Regions from separate parts of the Homo sapiens genome. Here region 1 is linked to region 2. Evidence: fine-mapped expression QTL. Tissue or cell type: lung. Region 2 holds a variant in brackets; the other region holds the start of a gene. All regions are shown on one strand. Distances are between the middles of the regions.

Evidence for each region. PIP is the estimated chance that this variant, and not a neighbour inherited with it, causes the effect.
Region 1: it holds the start of TSNARE1, and the variant in region 2 is fine-mapped to the expression of TSNARE1 in lung (GTEx, PIP 0.96).

The regions. Positions count from the first base shown.
Region 1 is chr8:142,398,256-142,406,355 of GRCh38, reverse strand. It overlaps TSNARE1 (t-SNARE domain containing 1), which reads left to right and starts at 3,174. Exons shown (of 14, transcript NM_145003.5): 1 at 3,174-3,252. RefSeq lists silencers at 2,276-2,325, 2,766-3,335, 3,476-3,615 and an enhancer at 2,269-3,044.
Region 2 is chr8:142,200,362-142,208,462 of GRCh38, reverse strand. LINC00051 (long intergenic non-protein coding RNA 51) reads right to left here. Exons shown (of 3, transcript NR_024378.1): 2 at 1,588-1,778; 3 at 1-213. Among named protein-coding and RNA genes, the nearest start is that of LINC00051, 6.1 kb to the right of the region's middle. RefSeq lists enhancers at 4,502-5,221, 5,942-6,662. The variant C/T (reference allele first, on the strand shown) is at 4,552.

The DNA.
Region 1 (8,100 bases), 200 kb before region 2:
CCCACTCCCGTGAGCTTAGGAGCCCAAATCAGCTACAATGGAAGTGGCACTGGCTTCAGTTACAGAAAACCTGACGAAATCCAATGAGGCAGACCCATAAAGGGAGCAGGGGCTTGTTCTCCCCATGGTGATGAGTCTGACGGTGCCATTGGGGCACCAAGGCAGCTGCTCACATCCTCAGCTTGGGACCCTGCCCCTTGCTGGCCACATGGCTGCTGTCCTCGGGATGCCGTGCCCACACTTCAGGCTGGAGCCAGGAGAAAGGAAGACTGTCAGTGAGGTGGGTGGCCACAGCTGCCCCTTCCAAAGGACCAGGAGGCTCGATTGTGCCTCCTGCAGTCATCCCCTGGGCAAACAGTGTCACAGCTGGCCCAGCTGCTGGTGAGGCTGGCTACATTGATGCCTTGAACAAAACTGGGGTTCTGTTGCTAAGGGACAAAGGAGGCCTGGGTAATAGTGAGGGCGGCTCGGCGGGGTTGGTGGGTGCAGGAATCAAGGACTGAGTGCCCGTGGGCTTTGCTGGAGCAGAAGCTGTGCTGGGAGCAGAGCAGGAGGTGCACAGGCCTTCTCCTGTCCAGGCAGGGGCTGCAGGGGAGCAAGGGATGGTCTCCTGAGCAGGTGACATTGAAGCCAGGCAGCAGAGGGTAGAGAGGAAGGGTGGGAGGGTGGGGAAACTCACGACAAAGCCATAGGTTGACACTGACCTGGAAATTCAGCTTAAACCCTGAGAAGTCCATGCTACTATTCAGAGAGGGAGCATTTCTGAGGTTGGCTTTAGTGGGTGCTGCCTCAACGTTCCTTCCGAAGGCCTTGGAACCACCCCCTAACCTTGTTGCCCACATTCCCTCTGGGACCTGGAATGGTAGATCCAATTTGGGGGGTGCCAGCTGAGGACCAGGCAACCCCCACCCCCTTAGGTAACAGAACTCAGCGTCCTGGGGCCAATCCCACTTATTCACCCTGTTGGTCTCACTGGTTGGCCAAGGGGTGGGACCAGAGTTCTTCCCAGGGAGTCCTGCTTCTCTGGAGGAAGGAGGGAGCCCAGAGCTGCCCGAGGTCATGTGATGACCTCTTCCAGGGAGGGGCAGAGATGAGGGAAGGGAGGGGAGCCCCGGCCCTAGGCCCAGGCAGCTATTGGCTATTTCCCTCATCCCTTCCTGAGGACCCCTTAGCATCCTCCTCCCCCTCCCCATCGGCTCAGCCTGAGGGAGTGGGCTCCTGGCTCTTCCACGGAGAGGTTTACCTTCCCTGACTTGCTGTGGGGCACTCAGGCGGGCTCATCCCAGATTTCGGAGGAGCCAACAGGTACGGAGCCCCTCCTCTGGTGGTTCCTACCCACGCTAGACCATTCCCCCTGCAGTGTCCAGGCACAGAAACAGCCCCATATACGCCTTGTATGGTCAAGAAAGCGGCTCCTGGAGGTGGTCTGCCCTGGGAGGAAAGGGCTTCACTTTCCCCTCCTTTGCACACCTGAACACGGAGCTGTCAGAGGAGGCTGAGTGAGGTGGCGGCCAGACAGACAGCGCCAGCCACGGAAGGGGAGGTGGGCACCGTGCCAGGCACCCGGCATCCTCAGTCCAGACTGACAGCTCTCAGACAGGCATTGGTCCTGGCGAACCTTCCCCTTCAAGTGGAAGCTGGGGGGTCAGCAGTCATGGGCATCCTCCCTGGTTAGGAGCCGGCTTCCCTGCACTCTAGCTGTCCTAGCCGAAGAGTGAAGCCCTGTCCAAATCATGGCGAGGCTGCAAGACAGGCACACACTACTGCCTCCTGGGAGCCCAGGGGAGACTGAAATACACCAAGGCAAGGAGCGTGGGTGGGCCCAGGACAGGCCGGCCTGAGCACCAGCCCAGGAATGCTGGTGGGCATGTGCCCCTCTTCCCTCCCACCCATGTGTGCACACATTTGTGCCATATACTACCGTTCCCATGTTTGCGCCTGGGCACACACTTGTGCCAGCATACACACACTTGTGCACTTGCACCTGGTGTCCAGGAACACTCCCTCAGCTCACAGACGTGCGCTGTGTGCACACAGTACCACGCAGTGTCCACGAGCACACTTTTGTGTTCGTGTTCACAGAACCCGTGTGCGCACACATGCACAGTCCTGGGCTGCAGAGAACCCCAGCCAGCGGGGCGGTGGGGGAAGGGGAGGGCACGCCTCCTTCCCAGGAGCTCAGCAAGGCTGTCCGCGGGAGCCCAGGGCTGCCCGCAGGGCTTTGGCGTAGGCCTCGCAAGCACAGCAAGCATCACAGAGTGAGGGCGGCGGGAGAACCTCCGCTTGCCGGAGAAGGTGCAGCGGACTCATCACTCTTGCTCTCCTGCCTTGGGTGTGACTCTTGGTTCACCTCTGGGGAAACAGGCTGAAAGGTGACCCTGGCGGCCCAAGGACACACACCCATTGTCCGCAGGTTCCTCCCAGGTGTCTTCTCCAGCAGGTCACCGGGAGAGCGAGGGGCTGGAGTCTTTCGGGAGCTCAGTGCCCGCAGGCAGAGCAGGGAAAGGGAGGCGCCCCAGGCCCCTGCGGAAGGAGGTCCCAGGAGGGTCTCCGCAAGGGGCTCCCTACTCTGCACTTCAGCTCCTCCAGGGAGGGGCTGCGACCTCGGGCAAAGGTCCCTCAGATGTCTTGAGACTCAGTTTCCTCGTTGGTGACACTGGGAGTCCGGAGTCCCCGCGGGGCCTGCCAGCCCCCGGCCGAGCACGGCCCCACGCGGAGCCCGTGCAGCCTGACTTGGGGCCCAACGCCCGTCCCCGCAGCGCGAGACGCGCAGGTGCCCGGCCCTGCCCTGGCCGAGACCCGCCGCCTGCGCAGCCCCGCAGAAGCTCCAGCTTTGGCCCGTGTGAGGTCCGGGCTCGGCCTGGGCTGGGCGGAGCCCGCTCCCGAAGCGCCTCAGCGCCGGGCCGCCGCCCTCCACGTGACCTCCACCTTCGCCGTCATCCCCATATGCAAAACGGGGAAACGGGGAAACGGAGGCCCACCACCAGGCAAGTGAGGACAGCCGACTCGCGCGCGCACCCGCAGAGGCCTCTTGGCCCAGCCGACCGCCGTCCGCGCCGCTTCCGGCTCCGCGCCGGGGCCTCTGGGGCGGGTAGTCCCCGCGCGCGTCCGGGACCGGCGGCCATTGGCTGGTGCGGGAGGGGGCGCGCACGCCGGCGGCGGGAGGGGCCGTCACGTGATGTTTGGGTGCCCGCCCCGCCCGCCTCGCCCGCCGTGAGCGCCCGGAGCGGTCCGCGAGCCACCGAGGCCCAGGTGAGGCGGCGGCGGTGGGGCTGGGGCCTGGCCGGGGCCGGGCGTGGGGCGGCGAGGGCGAGGCGGCCGGGGACCAGCGCGGGGCCCGGAGCCCGGCGGGGGCCGCGGCGTGGCGTGGTATGGGGCTTGCGGGAGGCCGGGCGGGGGGCGGGGCCGCGCCGGTGGGGAGGGGAGGGGGCGGGACCGTGCCGGGGGTGGACCCCAGGGGCGCCAGGGACCCTGAGCCGCAGCCCCGCGAGAGCGCCGCATTTCGGGGACCGGCCCGCGGGCACATGAGCCCCTCGGCGGGTCCTCGCGCGCTGTTCAGACCCCAGGTCGGTGGGCTCTGGGCCGGGCAGCCGGTGCCTGCGCCTGGAGGTCAGTGCCGTCCCGGGGAGCGCCCCAGCGCCTACTTGCTGGGTGCAAGGGTTGGTGCCCTGCAGCTCAACGAGCGGAGCCCGCCTTCGAGCCTGAGCTGGGGACCCCGTTCCTGTGTGCTTGCCTCTCCATGCCTTTCTGTCCCTTCTCCAAGTTGTAAGAAGGTGCTTCCTGGGTACTGGGGCCTGCGACATCCCCACCAGGGACTTTCAGGTGATGTTGATCTGTGCTGCCCCCGCAGAAACTCTCCAGGGACCTCGTGTTTGTTGCCTCATGGCGCACTCCTCCTGCTCTGGAAGCTCTGCCATGTCCAGTGTGGTAGCCCCTAGGCATGTGTGGCTGTTTACATTGTCCTTAACGTGAAGGATTCAGGTCCTCCGTGCCAGTGGTCACATGTCCGACACTCAGTAGCCACACGTGTCTGGTGGCGGCTGTGTGGGGCAGCGCGGGTAGGGAACACTGCTTATCACAGGAAGTTCTGTGAGCGGTGTGGTGCGGCTCAAAATGGGCCTCGCGCGTGCTGCTCCGCCGGTGCTTCTCCGCCCCTCATCCTGCCAGGTGCCTTTCCAGCCACACCTGGCGCCCTTTCTTTCCTCTGCTGCACACTTGCCTCTTCTTTTAGTTCCTGGCTCGCTCCTGGCTTGGGGGCAGCTCCGCTTCCGGTATGTCTGAGCTCACCTTTCTGACCGCTCTCCCTACAGTATTTCTTGTTTGTCATTGTCACTCATCTGCTTGTTTTCTGTTTTATCTTTAGTGCCTGTGAGACAGGGGTGGGGATTGTTGCTTAGGATACTCCCAGTGTGGACACAGTATTGAGTTGAAAGAAAGCTGAAGTTTGTTAGTACTGGAGTGCTTCCCCCGACTGAACCGCTGCTTTCATACCGTTCGACCCCATACATCACAGGACCGCAGCAGAAATCTGGTAGAACAAATGTTTGGACACAGCAGCACAGGCCGTGAATGCAGGTGGCTGTGGGAGGCTGGCAAATCCAAGACGACTTCCTGGAGGAGGTTGAGTTTTGGCTGGGTCACCTCTGTTTCTCTCCTCCTCTGCTGGCCTGGCCCCATGAACATCTGGCAGCCTCTGGCTGCTCTGACTCTATCCAGGAACCTTCCCTGGACACTTCCCCTGAGTCTGGCCTTCTGTAGATGCTGGGTCAAGAGCCTAGACCTAGGCACTCAGTCTAGGGGCTCATGGGCAGCCAGGTGTCCCTAAGTCTCTTCCACAGCTCCTCATGGCCTGCAGAGCGAGGTCCTGGGTTTGGCTCCTGCCAGCAGCTCCTGCCACATCTTCAGTCCCTGCTTTATGTCCCTGACAGTGCAGTCATTTTTCCTGCATAGTCTGTGGCTTTTCTCACTGGTGTGCCTGTCGATGCAGAGCCTTCTGCTTGGAATGCCCTGGCACTCCCGTGTTTGTCTCTCCTGTGTGCCTGGGAGCCTCTGTGGCATAGACCTCTGCTGTGTCACCCTTGTGTCCTGAGCACCCCACCCAGCACCGAGAGTAGGATAAGCACCTAGCAGGTTTTGATGAATAAATACACTGGACACGTAAGACTTTGAGGAGAATGTGGTGAGAAGTACAGCTAGGTCACGATGCTGGAGCTTGAGATGGAATCAGGGAGTCACCTTCCAGGTGGGCGGAGTTGGGGAGTCACCTTCCAGGTGGGGAGGAAAGACAAACATGCCTCGACCATGGCTGTACCAAGCCATTCGCGACACGGCGTGGGTGCATCCTTCCACGGTCCTGAAAAGGGGTGGTGAGTGTCTGCAGGTGGTGACACTAATGATACTGGTCACAGCACCTCCTGGTGCCAGGTGACCAGGGAACTGTGTTCATTACTCAGTTTACTCTCACAGTCACCCTGGGAGGAGGGTCTGTTGTCCCCATTTCCCAGATGGAGAGACTGAGACACAGAATGGTGATCTTGCCGTGAGTCCCTCAACTGTCGGGTTCTAGGACGTCATTTGTTCAGCCCAGACAGACACATTTCTTCCGAGGTTGTTGGGCGTTTTATCCCTCTGAGTGGTGTTTGGCCATAAGAACAGTTGGCTAGGGGTTAGGCTGTCTTCTTCTTATTTTTATTTTTTGACACGGAGTCCTGCCTCAGCCTCCCAAGTAGCTGGGACTACAGGTGCCTGCCACCACACCTGGCTAATTTTTTGTATTTTTAGTAGAGACGGGGTTTCATCATGTTGGCCAGGATGGTCTTGATTTCTTGACCTTGTGATCCACCCACCTCGGCCTCCCAAAGTGCTGGGATTACAGGCATGAGCCACCGTGCCCGGCCCTTTTAATTTTTTTTGAGAAGCTTCCCTCTTGTTGCCCAGGCTGGAGGGCGTTGGTGCAATCTTGGTTCACTGCAACCTCTGCCTCCTGGGTTCAAGTGATTTTCCTGCCTCAGCCTTCCGAGTAGCTGGGATTACAGGGGCCTGCCACCACGCCTGGCTAATGTTTTGTATTTTAAATAGAGACGGGGTTTCACCATGTTGGCTAGGCTGGACTCAAACTACTGACCTTTAGGTGATCAACCTGCCTCAGCCTCCCAAAGTGCTGGGATTACAGGCGTGAGCCACTGTGCCCAGCCACTTCTTCTTTTTGGCCAGGCTAGACTCAAGCTCCTGACCTTCAGGTGATCAACCTGCCTGAGCCACACACTGTAATCCCAGGTGTGAGCCACCGTGCCCAGCCACCTCTTTTTTTTTTTTTGAGATAGGCGTGTCTCACTGTGTTGCCCAGTTGCCCAGGCTGGTCTTGAACTCCTGGCCTTAAGCCATCCTCTGGCCTCAGCCTCCCGGAGTGCTGGGATTCCCAGCGTGAGTCATGGCGTCTGGCTCCAGGCTTTTTGTTTTAATGCACACGGGCGTTTCTGTGGCTACTGGGTTTGTTTGGATGGTGTTACTTGCTACAAGTAGACTTTGACCTTGTGGCCCAGTCCAGCTGTCATTCATTGTGTTCTTTAAAGTCTGATTTGTGCATCGTCCATAGTAGCAGACTCCTGAGCAGCCCTCCTCTCAGATTCCTCTGCTTTCTGCTGGGATGCTCAGCCCTGTCTAAACATTTGTGGCATCTGTGTGTGGAGCAGTGGTGACCAAAAGACTAAAGGCAAGAAGGAGTGAGTGAGAGAGTTGGAGAGCTCATGGCCGGCGCTGTCCCTCCAGAGGTGACAGTCAGTTGTTCAGTGTGGATGCTTATGTTTGGCTCTGCTCTCTGTACTGAGGGCATCCTCATCCTCTCCCTCTTGGGCGCATTGAGGCAGCTGGGGAAGATCATCATTCCTCCTGCCCCCACGGTCCCCAGCGCCAGTGGTGGACTCTGTACCTTTCCACACCTCCCTGTCTGCCACCCCACCCGCGGGGAGCTGTGCGTCTCTGAACGTCCATCCAGCTGTGGCCCAGGGCCTGGGGCCCAGTGAATGCCCGATGGGGATTTGCTGAAGACGTGAGGGGTTGTTTCACAGCTGATCTTGAGCCTGTGCTGTTCTTATTCCACTATCCTTCCTGTTAGTGCTGCATGGTGGAGCCATCTGGAAGCTTCCATAGGAAGAGTTTTCTTGGTCTGAGTTCCCTGGCAGAGAAGAAGGGCACTACCAACAATGACAAGCCAGGTGCCTTGAATAGGTTTCTGAAGATGCCTTATGGGCGGGGTGTCCTCACCTACGGAGCCCAGTTGGGCGGTGTCTCCTGCAGGGGCCTTGCTTCGGGGTGTCCTGCTTGCCATCCAGGGCTGTCCTCAGAAGCCAGCTGTGGCTGTCCTGCCTGGCCTTATCCAGGCTATGAGATTCTCTCGTCAACTTGCGGCTTGCTGAGTCTGGGATGGGGGTGAAGGTGGCTCCGTGTGGGCTTCAAATCCGGACTGTGCTGCACAGGGCCCTTCCTTTTTTGTCCTTGGGTAGGTCCTGTTAGGATGTGAACCCACTTGGGGGCCACTGCAGGCAAGCAGGACAGTCTACTGGGTGTTCCTGCCTGGACAGGGTCATTGGCAAGTCCCCAGCCCCTGCCCCTGCCATCAGGGCTGCTGTCTGAGATGTGTAATGTTCTGTGAGACTATGCTAAGGCCATGCCTGGCATGAGTCTTGGGATGGACACAGTGGCAAGCAGGATCAGGCTGTCCTGGCCTTGCTCCGGACACTGCTGTGCACCTTACAGAGCAAGGTCGAGGCAGTGGAGTGAGGAGGTGGAGAGGGCACCTTACAGAGCAAGGTTGAGGCGGTGGAGTGAGGAGGTGGAGAGGGCACCTTACAGAGCAAGGTTGAGGCGGTGGAGTGAGGAGGTGGAGAGGGGAGCTGACTCTGCTGGGGTTGTGCTTTGGCAGGGCTGGGGATGTGCTTTGGGAGGGTTTGGGGGCATATTTTGGGGCTGGAGGTGTGTTTTGGGTAGGGCCGGGGGCATGTTTTGGGCAGGGCTAGGGGTGTGTTTTGGGCAGGGCTGGGGGTGTGTTTTGGGCAGGGCTGGGGACATGTTTTGGGCAGGGCTAGGGGTGTGTTTTGGGCA
Region 2 (8,101 bases):
ATCCTCTGGGTTGTGGGCACTCTCTTCATGTGGTTCTTCAGGCCTCCTATCCTTGATAATCAGGGTTGATTCCCCAGCCACTGCCTTCATGCTGCTTTGCTTGTTAACTTGGTGGCACCAGACAGGTGGCCAACTCAGCCCCCAGGGCAGCAGAGCCATTCCTGTGACCCCTGGTGGAAACATTCCTGCACTGGGCATTATCTTGGGCAGTCCCTAGAAGGGGAATGTGAACTGGTGGAGAATGTAACCATGAGAGACACCACCCCATAGGTTCTGCCTGGGGGAGAAGGAGCTCCAGATATAAGTCCCTCGTTCTCAGCACACACCCCATCCTGTAGGACAGCACCCCCTCCGCATGGGGCATTGTTTCTAACTGGGGTCTTCAGGCACCCTCTTCATTGCACAGGAGGCCACCTGCTTCAGGGTGATGGAGGAAGCCAGGGAATTCTGGAGGCCTCAGGTGTGACTCTGCTTTTTTTTTTTTTTTTTTTTTGCTACAAAATAGTTTCCTTGTTGGAAGATTTAAAAAGGGCTCTGGAATCTCAGGTCCAAAGTTCTTGCAGAGGGGGAGAAATGGCTACCTGCTGTCAATACCTTAGTCTTTTAAGTCTGTTTAAGCATCTCTCCATCCCCCATCCATCCTCCCATTCCCCATCCATCCATGCATCCATTTATCCCTCTAACCCCCATCCATCCATCCACCTATCTATCCATTCCTCCCCATCCATCCATTTATCCATCTATCCTTCCATCCCCCATCTATTCATCCATTCCCCATCCATCTACCCATCCATCTACCCATACCCCCATCCATCCACCCACCCATCTATCCCTCTAACCTCCATCCATCCATCCATCCACCTGTCCATCCATTCTTCCCCATCATCAATTTATCCATCTATCCTTCCATCCATTCATCCATTCCCCATCAATCCACCCACCCACCCATCTATCCCTCTAACCCCCATCCATCCACCTATCCATCCATTCAGCCATCTATTCTTCCATCCCCTATCTATTCACCCATTCCCCATCCATCCACCCACCCACCCACCCATCCACCCACCCATCTATCCCTCCAATGCCTATCCATCCACGTATCCATCCATTCCTCCCCATCTAGCCATTTATCCATCTATCCCTCCATCTCCCATTTATCCATCCATTCCCCATCCATCCACTCACCCACCCACCTACCTGTCCATCTATCTCTCCAAGCCCCATCTATCCATCCACTCATCCATCCCCATCCATCCCCCATCTATGCATCCATCTATCCATCCCCTACCCACCCATCCATCCATTCACCCATCCATTCCCCAGACATTTGCCCATCTTTCCCCCATTCACCCATCCATCTATTCATCCAATTCCCCCATTCATCTACCATCCACCCATCCATTCCCTATCCAGCTCCCATCCATCCACCCACCCATCTATCCACCCATCCACCAACCCACTCATCCATCCATCCATCCCCTATCTATGCATTCATTCATTCATTTCGCCACCTGTCCCCCACATATCCACCCATTCATTCATTTGCTCTCTGGACAGCTGCCTTCTAAGCACCCCCACCCCACCTACCTGGGCTCAACATAGGAAGTAAAGCAGGACTCCTGTGCCCCAGAAGCTCCCAGTGTGGTGGGAGTGCATCCATGTAGACAGAGAAGCCACATTCACCATGGGCGGCACAGAGGAGGACACAGGAACAAAGGTGTCACAGGTCAGGTAACATTGCTGGGGTCTAGGTAGCTTCCAGATGGGGTGACCTTGACCTGCAGGCAGGGAGGAGCTGGTGACCTCCCTCCCATCTAGGGTCACCTGCACAGTCCTGTAGCAGCCAGACACCTAGAACCAATTTTTGGCCTGACGTTTTCAGTTCTCCCTTTAACCAAATCATTGCTCCTTTTCCCGGCGAGTTTCCAATTTAGATACCCAAATTGTTTACTTGCTGAAATCAATCGACAAGGGACCAGCTTGTATTTGTGATTCAATTGACTATGATACACTGTATTACAATTACACCTCGAATGGATTTCTTTTTAATTTATTTTTCTCTTAACGGTCTCCTCCGCGGTAATTCCAAGACTAATTGTCCTCCTGATCATCCTCATCAGCTGGAGGAAGGATAATGAATTGCTGCAGTTCATAGAGGATGCCGGCCAGGAGCTGCCGGGTCCCCAGCCCTCCCAGCACCCCTTCCCTGGGTCCTCCCTTTCAGGCCGGCCCACGTGCTGTGAGCTGAAGTCCTCCCAGGCGAGGCTTCACTGTCAACGGTTTCATCTGTTCGGCTCAAGATGGGGCGAGTCCCAGAGGAAGACGGCAGACCCTGCCCCTGCCCCTGCCCCTGCCCCTTCCGCTGTCTCGTGGCTGCTCTGCGAGTTCCCATCTGGCAGGGAGCAGCCTGGAGGCCCGTCGAGTTCTGAGGGTCTGTGATCTGCTGCGTATTCCTGAATGAACCTCTTCTCCCTGGGCCTTGGTTTCCCCATCTGTGAGATGGGCCCCCCGGTCTCTAGAGCCCCTTTGGCTGAGACCTTCTGTGAGTCTGTTTAGGGCTCGGGGAAAGGAGTGCTGGGCAGTGCGTCCTGCATGACTCTGGCTCAGAGCCTGCCTCTGCTGTCACCTGTCCTTCCCCCTTCCCCTCACATCCCACCGTCCACTCTGGGGTCTGTGTGCCCGTGTGCCTGGTGCCAGCTTGGCACCAGGTGTTGGACTGGCTTGGCTGTGCAGATGGGCATCATTGCCAACCCCACTTTCCAGATGGGAATATGGGAGGCCCTCAGGTACCAGGGGCCTTCAGCCCAAGAGCCGGGCTTCACCCCAGAGCCATGTGGCCATGGAGGCGCTGCTCCAGCTGTGCCCCACTGAGGGCGCTTGCCTGTGCTCCCTTGGGAGAGGCTTCCCTGAGCCCTGCATCCACCCTGGGGCTTGCTTCGGTGAACAAGCCACACCCTGCCCTGGCATGTCCTGTAGCCGGGAGAGGGGAGGCGAGGTCTCGCCAGGGCTCAGGTGGGGCCCCCAACACCACCAAGTGGAGACCCCTGCAGGAGAGGCCACCAGAGGCAGAGATGCCACAACCCCCTGAGAAGTGCTTCCCGGTGTGTAAGTGCCTGTGTGTGTTTGTGTGTGTCTTGCTTCGGTGTGAGCATGTGTGTGTGTATATGTATGTGAGCATGTGTGTGTGCATATGTATGTGAGCATGTGTGAGCATGTGTGTGCATGTGTGTGCATATGTGTGTGAGCATGTGTATGTGTGCATGCACGTGTTCCTTGCGCATGTGCATATATCTGCATTGTGGTGTCTGTGTGTACCTGTGTGTCCATGTGTGTCTCTGTGCACATATGTGCCTGTGTGTGTGTCCATGTGTCTCCGTGTGTGTCTGTGTATATGCGTGTTTGTGTGTGTGCATGTGTGTTCACGTGTGTGTGTCCATGTGTCTCCATATGTCTGTGTATATGCGTGTTTGTGTGTGTGTGCATATGTCTGTGCACGTGTGTGTGTCCATGTGTGTCTCTGTGTGTGCATATGTGTGCATGTGTTGGCACGAGGGAGCCACTCACAGAGCCTGAAGCAATGGGGTCCTGGCCCCTGTCCACCTGATGCCTTCCTGACCGGGCCTCAGTTTCTCATTTGTGATGTGGGGTGAGGGTGAGAGGCATCTGTGTGGCCCTTTAGAGGTGACCAGATGCCTTTGTCCGTCCTTTGTCCTCTGACCTTCACACAAGTGAGGGGTGTGGGGGGTGTATTTAATGACCCCCCTCAGCACCTGGCAGCCTCCATGGTGGACCCAGCATCTGGGCCTCTGCCCCTGCCCCCCACCCCCGGCGCTCCCTCCACGCTCTGACACATGGGAGACGCACAGCTCCCCAGGCTTCCACATGGATTGATTTGGCGGCCCCAGGAATAGATGTGTCCATACATTAGGTGCATGTGGAAACATGGCCCCAATAACCCCAGCCCGCATGCCTCTGTCTGAAGCATTCTCGCACCATGGGAATTATTTTGCTATTTTGGGGTATAGATCCTTGCAGGAGCTGAGATGCCATTTCCATCGTGGGTGCCACGATCATGAAAAGGAGAATCAATGACAGGGTGCGAGGCGGGATGAGGGAGGGGAGCCCCAGCTGTGTCTGGTGCCGGAGTCAGCCCCCAGGCTTCCAGAAAGGTCCAGGTGCCGAGGGCACCCAGCTGGAGTCAGCCCCCAGGCTTCTAGAAGGTCCAGGTGCCAAGGGCACCCAGCTGAAGTCAGCCCTGGGCTTCCAGAAAGGTTTGGCTGCCAAGGGCACCCAGCCTGCACCTCCTGGCCTCTCTGAATCCGCCAGAGGTGAGGTCAGCGAGGATGTCCAGCCACAGGAACCAGGAGCTCAGATGACCTTGTGGACTGGAGGGGACAGGAGACCTCCCAAGGCCACGTGGCAGCTGGACACGGGCAGGGTCTTGCCCAATCACTTGAGTTTCTGCCCCACAAATACACCAACCAGAGGGAGACAGCGCCCCCTGCACATGCAGACCCTGTAGACCCCGAAAGCTCCTGTTTGTGGAGTCCC[C/T]GCCCCTGGCCCCGCCCCTGCTGACCACCCTGGCCCCGCCCCTGCTGACCACCCTGGAGCAGCCCCTTGGGCTTCATCTCAGATGCACGAGAGGTCGTGGGTCTGGGTTCTGACTCTGGTTTCAAATCAAGCTTGGTGGTTCAAACTTAGGAAGGTCGTTTCCTTGACTTCAGACTCCTCATTTATACAATGAGCCAATAATACCTTCCCCCGAAGGTTCTGAGTAGCTGGCATTTTGATATCTTAGGGAGGGGCCTGGTAAATGCAGCACTTTTGGCTCTGTGGGTCTGTACTGTCTGCAATGGGCTGGGCCGCTCAGAGGCAGTGAGTGTGCAGGCAGAGAGTGGGGGCTGGGCCGCTCAGAGGCAGTGAGTGTGCAGGCAGAGAGTGGGGGCTGGGCCGCTCAGAGGCAGTGAGTGTGCAGGCAGAGAGGGGGCCCACTGCTCAGGTGTGGGAGGCTGGGTGAAAAGGCTCTGAGGTCTCTTCAAATAGAGTTGAGACAGAATGGCAAGGATGCCCAGGATCCGAATCACCCAGCCACGCCTAGAACTGCAGACGTCCTTCCGGAGCTGCACCCCGGTGCCGCAGCCAGGAGGCACGTTCTCCCTGCCCCTACCCCTGTCCCAGGGGAGGGGGCTGAGGTTCCCAGCAGCACCTGCCATGCACTGAGATGCCAGGGAGCCTGAATTCAATTATGCACCAGGTGTTATGTATGTGGCATCCCACGGATGCATTGATTTCTCAGGTTGACAGATCGGTTATGAATCAGGTAATAGACCAGCTTGTAACTGAAATATATTGGATTGTGCAGGCGGCCTGGCTGAGTATCGGCTTGAGGGAAATAGGGCAGATTTACGAGCCTGGGAGGGTGGCTGGGGCATCAGCCGTTCACCCTGCACAGTCACAGCTGCTAGCCTCACACCTGTGCCCAGGGAGCCGGGAAATAGAGAGTTGATCTGGGAGAGGAGGAGGGAACAGCACGGAGAAGGGTCCACAGGCGGGAGGGCCCAGGAAGGGGGCACAGAGCAGGGCAGGGAGGCTGTGGGCCCTTGAGAGACCCTGGGGGCAGCATGGGAGGATCACGGGTCTGGAGTCCAGGGCAGTGTGGCGCTCCTAGGACCTGATCATGGTTGTGTTCCCTTTCATGAGGGCTTCATGCCCCGGGAACTTGTCAGTGATTGCCTGGGTCCCCTCCGATGACACTCACAGCCCAGGAGTCAGATGCCGTCATCATCCCCTTGCAGCTAGGCAGGCCAAGCTCTGAGATGGCAAGAAACCTCTCTGTGCCATGCAGCCGAGGGGAGGCCAAGATTGCAAAGCCAGACAGGCTGACTTTGTGCCTTTTGCTTCCCCGTTCAGCTCTTCTGAACCATGACAAGCAGGAGTGAGGCCCCATGGAGGGGGCCCTGCCCTGCCACTCAGGGAGTGCACCCCAGGCCCCCGGTGCTCAGCCTGTTCGACCTCAGCCTCTACACACAGCAGACCAGGACAGGGGCCCCGCTCAGAGGTGGGAGCAGTGCTCTGATCTGCCTGGCAGAGGGCGGAGACGGCGGCTGGAGGGCTCTCAGGGTCAGAGCTGGAGGCCTGGGCATGGGAGGGCAGGGAGAGCCGGGCTGGGGACTCCCGTCATCCACAGTACTTGGCTGATATCACTGTTCAGGTGTTGCCTCCCTGCGGGGAGTCAAATGCCCTGAGGACAGGGGGCCTTTCTTTCCATATGCAGAGCCCAGCCAGGGCCCGGCCTGTGAGAAGCTCAGAGAGAGGGCAGCGTGAGCGGATGTGGTGGACATCTGGGAGCACCCACAGTCCTGGAGCTTGGACCCGCCTGAGATGAGACACCAGGGCTCAGGACTCAGCCTCCAGTCACAGTCCGCCTTCAGTATGTGACCTTGGTCAGAGCTCAGACTGTGACCAGAGCAGGGCTCAGTTTGGGGCCAGAATCATGGCTTAGACTTTGCCTAGGATGAGGCTTGGATTATGACCTGGGTTAGGACTCAGTGTATGGCTATGATCGGGGCTCCGTGTGCGGCCCAGATCAGGGCTCGGGGTGCGGCCCTTAGAGGAAAGGAGATGCCTAGGCCGCTGGAGAACAGAGCTGTCATCCCCTGGGTCCCTTCGCTCCACGCTTTCACCAAGGACCCGATCAAGACCATTAACGGATGCACAGAAGCTTCTGGATCTGCTCAGGCCCCTCTGTGGTGGGAACCCCCCGGCCCCCCTCTCCCTGCTGTGGGTCTCTGTCACTGAGTGGCCCCGTGAGCATCTCTAATGAGCTCCTTCCAGGGGGAGGCTGGGGGGGTGGAGGGGGCCCAATTTATCTCTATTTATGCCTCTCCTTATAGCTCCACCAGCTTCTCAGTAATCTTTATGGGGTTCAATTATTGTATCTTCAATTGATATGAGTGATTTCAATGGTTCTTGATGTTCCGTGTTAAATCTCCAGTGGAAAATATCTTCAACGTTCAGCATAAAACACCTAGTCATTGCCGGCAATGCAGCCACGGAGGCCTCGCCGGGAGATGTGGGCCCGGTTCTGGGTGGCAGGTGAGGTGTCCTCACCCCTGGGCCCACAAATCAGTGTGGGGTGACACCCCCTCCTCCACCCTGGCAGCTAGAGCACCTCATGGTGAGAACTTAGCTTTTATGGGAAAATAGAGCTGGGGCTTGAGGCTGGGAGCGACCCGACATACCGGTTTCCTGTTTCTGTTGTAATAACTAACCACCAACCCGTGACTTCAACCAACAGAAGTTCGTTTCTCACAGCTCCAGAGTCAGAAATCCAGAAGGAGAGTTAGGGGCTCCATCTAGGCGTCGGCAGAGCAGGCTCCTCCCAGAGGCCCCATGGGAGGCTCCCTCCTGGCCTCTGCAGGCTTCTGGAGACCTTCTGCTTTCCTCGAAGCCTCTGTCTCGCAGCCCTTCCCCTCCTCACACCTGTCTCCTGCCTCCCTCTCTTTTTCTTTTTTGAGATTGGGTCTCGCTTTGTCACCCGCGCTTGAATGCAGGGCTGGAGTGCAGTGGTGCCATCATGCTTCACTGCAGCCCCCATCTCCTGGGCTCAGGTGATCCTCCTGCTTCAGCCTCCCGGGTAGCTGAGACTACAGGGGCACGCCACTATGCCCGGCTAATTTTTAATTTTTTTCTGTAGAGACGAGGTCTTGCTATTTTGCCCAGGCTGGCCTTGGCCTCAAGTGACCCTCTCACCTCGGTCTCCCAAAGTGCTGGGATTATAGGCATAAGCCTGGCCACCTGCCTTCCTCTTAAAAGGACCCTTGAAGTGACATTTAGGACCCACCTGGGTCCCCCAGGATTGTCACACATCTCCTGGTCCTTCACATCCGCACATCCCTTTTGCCACGTAGGGGGCATATCCGCAGGGTAAGGTCCATGCATGGTGTGTTTCCATGGTAACATGGTAAGAGGGAAACACGCAAGGACAGGTCCTCACCACGCCTGTGAAAGCCCCAAGGCTGCCCTGATAGTTGCAAGGGGTGCGGCTGCCAACCCTACCTCTTGTGTTTGCATCACTACCATCCTCCCCCAGTAAGAGCAG